2 separate regions of the Homo sapiens genome follow, and region 1 is linked to region 2. Evidence: fine-mapped expression QTL. A gene starts in region 2. The other region holds a variant in brackets. All regions are shown on one strand. Distances are between the middles of the regions.

What was found. PIP is the estimated chance that this variant, and not a neighbour inherited with it, causes the effect.
Region 1: its variant is the best candidate, but not a certain one, in a credible set for the expression of NPFF in sigmoid colon (GTEx, PIP 0.62).

Annotation. Positions count from the first base shown.
Region 1 is chr12:52,665,166-52,667,954 of GRCh38, reverse strand. No RefSeq gene overlaps it. Among named protein-coding and RNA genes, the nearest start is that of KRT1, 14 kb to the left of the region's middle. The variant C/T (reference allele first, on the strand shown) is at 1,217.
Region 2 is chr12:53,506,311-53,509,099 of GRCh38, reverse strand. NPFF (neuropeptide FF-amide peptide precursor) reads left to right here and starts at 1,616. Exons shown (of 3, transcript NM_003717.4): 1 at 1,616-1,727; 2 at 1,958-2,079; 3 at 2,207-2,412. The coding sequence starts at 1,626. The coding sequence ends at 2,324. ATF7-NPFF (ATF7-NPFF readthrough) reads left to right here. Exons shown (of 15, transcript NR_159377.1): 13 at 1,073-1,266; 14 at 1,958-2,079; 15 at 2,207-2,412. TARBP2 (TARBP2 subunit of RISC loading complex) reads right to left here. Exons shown (of 9, transcript NM_134323.2): 9 at 2,669-2,789. It also overlaps a transcript of ATF7 not described here. RefSeq lists a silencer at 1-63 and an enhancer at 201-495.

The DNA.
Region 1 (2,789 bases), 840 kb after region 2:
GTGCCAGCAAATTTATTTGTTTGTTGAAAGGTTGGATCCTCAGAATGCCCTGGGATGCTCTGTGTCACCGTGTTTGCCACTCCCATATCTGCTGGAGGGAACCTGACACTCCCTGCCAATCCATTATCAGAAATATGGCGCAGTCTTAGTCAACTTGCGACCTTCCCAAGTTCATGCGGGTTTATCCCCACCCCTCCCAGGGGCCCACGCCCGATTTCCAATCTGTCAATAGGCCCTGCGTATTCTCTCTAGGCAGTATGGAGTGTCCTCTGCTGGTACAAAGGCTTCTCTACATGCAATGATGGTACCTGTGATGGTCACCACAACGCAGCGGCTCCCAGGGAGGGTGAGGATGAAGATTACATCCTTTGGATATTTCAGAAAGCTTACTGGGAAAAATAGAAACAAAAAGACTTCTCTTGATTCTGTTCACAAGTTGCAAAGACATAAGGAAGCAGCTAAATCCTTCCTGATACAGAGAATCTTTGATCGTGGGAGAAAGCTCTTTTCTCTGGGTGTTGAGCTCAGTCCTGAGCATCTTGGAAGTTAAAGTGACCCATTGAAAAGCTAATGTGAGCACAGAGGCAAAAACTAGAGCAGAGAAAGGACTGGAAAAAAGATCAAGGAAGACGGCTGAGGGTGGGGTGTGATGATTTCTTTCTTTCTTTCCTTCCTTCCTTCCTTCTTTCTTTCCTTCCTTCCTTCCTTCTTTCTTTCCTTCCTTCCTTCCTCCCCCCTTCCCTTCCCTTCCCTTCCCTTCCCTTCCCTTCCCTCCCCTCCCCTCCCCTTCCCTCTCCTCCCCTTCCCTCCTTTTTCTTTCTTTCTTTCTTTCTTTCTTTCTTTCTTTCTTTCTTTCTTTCTTTCTTTCTTTCTTCCTTTCCTCTTTTTTTTTTTTTTTGAGACAGGGTGCTGTTCTGTTGCTCAGGCTGGAGTGTGGTGGCACAATCTCAGCTCACTGCAGCCTCAACCTCCCTGGGTGCAGGCGATCCTCCCACCTCAGCATTCCAAGTAGCTGAGACTACAGGCACACGCCACCACACCTAGCCAATTTTTGTTCTTTTTTAGAGATGGGGTTTTCCATGTTTTTTAGAGATGGGCTTATCATGAACTTCTGAGCTCAAGTGATCTACCAGCCTTGGCCTCCCAAAGTGCTAGGATTACAGGCGTGAACTACTGTACCTGGCCAATGGTCACTTTCAATGAAGATAAACCACAC[C/T]ATAGTTTGTAGGGAAGAGAGTCAGCCTCTTCTTGCTTGGAAGTTACAGGAGTCACTCTAAAGAAGAACTTTCACCCCGGCCCAGTTGCCCCACAGTGCAGGAGCTGTCTTGTGAGAGGAGTTAAGCTGACTTGGAGAAACAAGTAGAAGGGTCTTTCCCAAGGCAAGGGCACTTGAGCAGAGAGTCCAGCCCTGGTTCGGAAATTGGACCACTTCCAACCTGGAGATCCCAAGGCTGCCTTCTTTCCCCATTCTCCTTACAAGTCCTCCAGATTCTTCTTTCTCTTTTTTTTTTCCTTCCCAAGATTCCCAGACTCAACTCCCAGAATATTTTGAGCAGTTATTTTAAAAAGCATAAAGGTTTGGTTCTGGTTTGAGCTGATCTTATAGGTGTTTTGGTGAACATTTATGTTTGTTCAGTTAAAAAATATTGGAGTTCAGTTCTTGAGCAGGGGTTGTTTATGGTGGATTTGGTTCAATCCTGGTCAATTTCCTGTTGTGTACACCCTGTGGGGGTGTTGACAGGCGGGGGTCTGTCATGAAGGAGAGGCCAGCCTGAGGCTGCACATGCAGCCCACCTGCCTCAGCCTCCCGAGTAGCTGGGACTACAGGCATGTGCCATCATGCCCGGTTGCCATGCAGTTCCTTATAGCTTTAGAAATTTTCCAGCTTTGAAGGAGCTATGTCTTCAGCCACCTCATAAGGATGTTTAAAGGGGAGGGGTGGGAAATAGTCCAAATGAAATTACTAGGATGTATTTTTTATCCTTACTGAAAAATTGCACAAACAGCATAGTAACCATATGAAAGAAAATTAAAATGAACAGAAAATTCACCTCAACTAAGAACTATTAAGTTTCCCTTTCCATTCTAGACCCTCTTCCTACGTAAAGATGAATGAATGCAGCTGTAACCAGAAAGTAAGTATAATTATTAGCATGTATTTTAATATTGATCATTAACATTTTCTTCAAGGTCCAGCTAAATGCCAGAACTTCTGTGACTCCTTCTCTCTCCCGTGGGGAAAAAAACATTCTTTTGTGTTCCCATCCCATTTTGCCTGCCTGTGTCCTGGCATTAATAACATAATATAGGTAGCTGCAAGTATGTCTGTTCCAATGATTTGTGTTGTCCTAAATGGGTGAGTGGGTGGGGGGCATGCCTTATTTATTTCTGATTATTTCCGACAAAATGGGTTAAGAATCCCGCAACAAAACAACACATGGGGTCCTTCATTTTGGGCCCCTTGGGTGAGGAATGTTGTCCTAGAAAAGCACATTCAAAGGTCTGAAATGTGCATTTATTGGCTCTACTGGGTGTCTTTTCACCTGCCTAGACCATATTTCCTTCGGTAAAGGGGTTATAATGGAGCTGTCTCTGGCAGGCTGAGTTCAACTGGCCATCAGGAGTAGCTATGTCTGACCAATCCTGGGCCAGGGAGGGCCCTTGGTGACCATACCTACCTAGCGAGACAAGTAACTAGCAAGGTGAGCGGATAGGGACTGGGAGGATTTAGGGCCCAATCTCTTAGGAAAGACCTCAGGGGGTAGCAGTTCTCCTAAGTGGGGTCCCTG
Region 2 (2,789 bases):
TTCCTCAGCACAAGCTAGAGACCCACACTGGTGGGGATGCTCCAAAAGGGACTCGAGGATTAGAAGGAACCTGCACCATATGGCTTTGAAGGCCTCTCCCTGAGGATTAGTGATTCTGATTTTTCTTAAGACAGGATTCTAGGCTACTCTATATGAGAGCCAGGGCCAGGCAGAGGCTGTGGAGACCAGAGTCGGGGTCAGAATGATAGTCCAGCCCCACAGTAGCCTGCTCCTGTCCTTCTGGGACTCCCTGGAGACTGGACCCTAGCACCTCCACTCAGCCTCACCCTCCTCACTTCCTCTGCAGAGGTCTATTCTAGGAAAAGGAAATGGCCGGAGCTGGCAATGAGGAGCTGTGACCACAGGGTGGCAGCAGTGCTTCAGCTGTGGAGAGTGACTATAGGAAGGGCGATGAGGCAGGTCGGAAGCAGTGCTCTCTAGTGAGGATGGGGGTCTGTCTGCAAAGATTGGAAGCCACACTCATTCAGTGGGCTCCAAAATCCTGTAGCCTCCCTCTATATCTTAATAATTTTTTTTTTTTGAGACAGAGTTTCTCTTTTTGCCAAGGCTGGAGTGTAGTGGTGCCATCTCAGCTCACTGCAACCTCTGCCTCCCCGATTCAAGCGATTCTCCTGCCTCAGCCTCCTGAGTAGCTGGGATTACAGGTGCCTACCACCACGCCCAGCTAATTTTCGTATTTTTAGTAGACAGGGTTTCACCATGTTGGCCAGGCTGGTCTCGAACTCCTGCCCTCAGGTGATCCACCCGCCTTGGTCTCCCAAAGTGCTGGGGTTACAGGTGTGAGGCACTGCACCCGGCCAAAAAAAAAATGGTTTTTAATTAAAAAAAAAAAAGATACAGGCTGGGCATGGTGGTTGACGCCTGTAGTCCCAGCTACTTGGGAGGCTGAGGCAGGAGAATCACTTGAACCCAGGAGCCAGAGGTTGCAGTGAGCCGAGATCGCGCCACTGCACTCCAGCCTGGGCAAAAAGAGCGAAACTCCATCTCAAAAAGAAAAAAAGTTAAATTCTCTCCATCATCATGAAGTTGAATATATTTTTTCTATCCACAGGCAAATCTGAGTAGCCTCCAAGAGGCACACAAGCAGAGGATGGGCTGTGTTGCCCTGACTGCCAGCCCCAGGCACAGAGGACCAGGCCTGGTCATCCTCACAGACTCTGACCCTGGCTCTTCCCACTCCTCTTCCACTCCAGGACATCCTACTTAACCCCTCCTGACATGAGTTTCTTGTGCTTTAGTCTACAGGTTAGGAAAGAGGGGAAGTGATAAACAAGCTCTCCAACCTGTTGAGGGATTAGGGGTTCGTCTAAGGCTCCCCAGGGCCTGGCTCTGACAAAGCGTCTGCAACTAATGATGCTTCTTGAGCTCTGGAGACAGGATTTATGCATCTAATAAAGTCTGTAACTCCAGGCTTAGGGGCCGGGGGCAGGAGGCTGAGAGCATGAAGTCCTGGGGGCGCCATGGGAGGAGATCCCAGGTGGCTCCTAATGAGCCCTGCATTTCCATTTGCCTGCTCTAGATTCCCCTAAGGCTACTGTGAGGCTGGGGGTGGGGGAACAGCAGGTATAAGAGGTTGGGGTGGCTGTAGGAGGGTAGGTGGCAGCATGGATTCTAGGCAGGCTGCTGCACTGCTGGTGCTGCTGCTGTTAATAGACGGGGGCTGTGCTGAAGGGCCAGGAGGCCAGCAGGAAGACCAGCTCTCCGCGGTGAGTGTGTGTCCCATCCCCATATCACCATTGCCTCTACTTCGGTTGAGACTTGTGCTCTAGGTTCTGATACTTTCTCTGGCTGCCAAGGTTGTCATTAGGTCCTCACATCTGAGGAAATGGTTCCGCAGCCTCCTACCACTTGCCCCTGGAAGCCAGTCCCTTCCCCTTGTGACTTACGTGTCCAGGGTATTTGCCCATCTTCCTTCCCTGATACCCCCTTGGCACAGGAGGAAGACAGCGAACCCCTCCCACCACAGGATGCCCAGACCTCTGGGTCACTGTTGCACTACCTGCTCCAGGCAATGGAGAGACCTGGCCGGAGCCAAGCCTTCCTGTTTCAGCCCCAGAGGTGAGTCTGAAAGGGACACAAGCATGGCAGGGGCTGGGGGTGGAAAGGGCAGGAGGCAGAGGAAGAGGAGAAGGAAGGGGGCTAGAGAAGGGAGACTGCGGGGACCTGAGGACAAATCTTTCCTAAGGTTTGGCAGAAATACCCAGGGATCCTGGAGGAATGAATGGCTGAGTCCCCGGGCTGGAGAGGGGCTGAATTCCCAGTTCTGGAGCCTGGCTGCCCCTCAACGCTTTGGGAAGAAGTGACATGTCATCCCTTGATATGTCTGCATGCAAGGTCCACACCCAAAAGTGTCAATGTTTGCCCCCCAAATAAAATTGTCTGGCTTCTGAATCCATGTGTGTCTGTGTGAGACTTTACAGGGCTGGGTGGAAGCCCAAGGGCAAGAACCACTGCCCTTCCCCTCCACCAAACCCAGCCCTCCAGCAAGGCAGCCGACAACATTCCACGAGGCCACTGTGCCCAGCCTCCTCCCACCAGAAAGGAAAACAGGAGAATGGCTGGAACAGGAGCTCAGGGAAGGCACACAAAAGTAATGTGGTGACCTCCTCTGCTATCCACACTGCTCAAGGAAACAGAAGAGAAGGGCTTAAAAATCCACAAAGCAGCATATTTATTCCAGGCTCTAGTAGACAGCCCCCTGATTTCATTCCCATTCATCATCACCAATAAAATGAGGACGGATCCTGGGCTGGCTGAGGCTCTGTGGT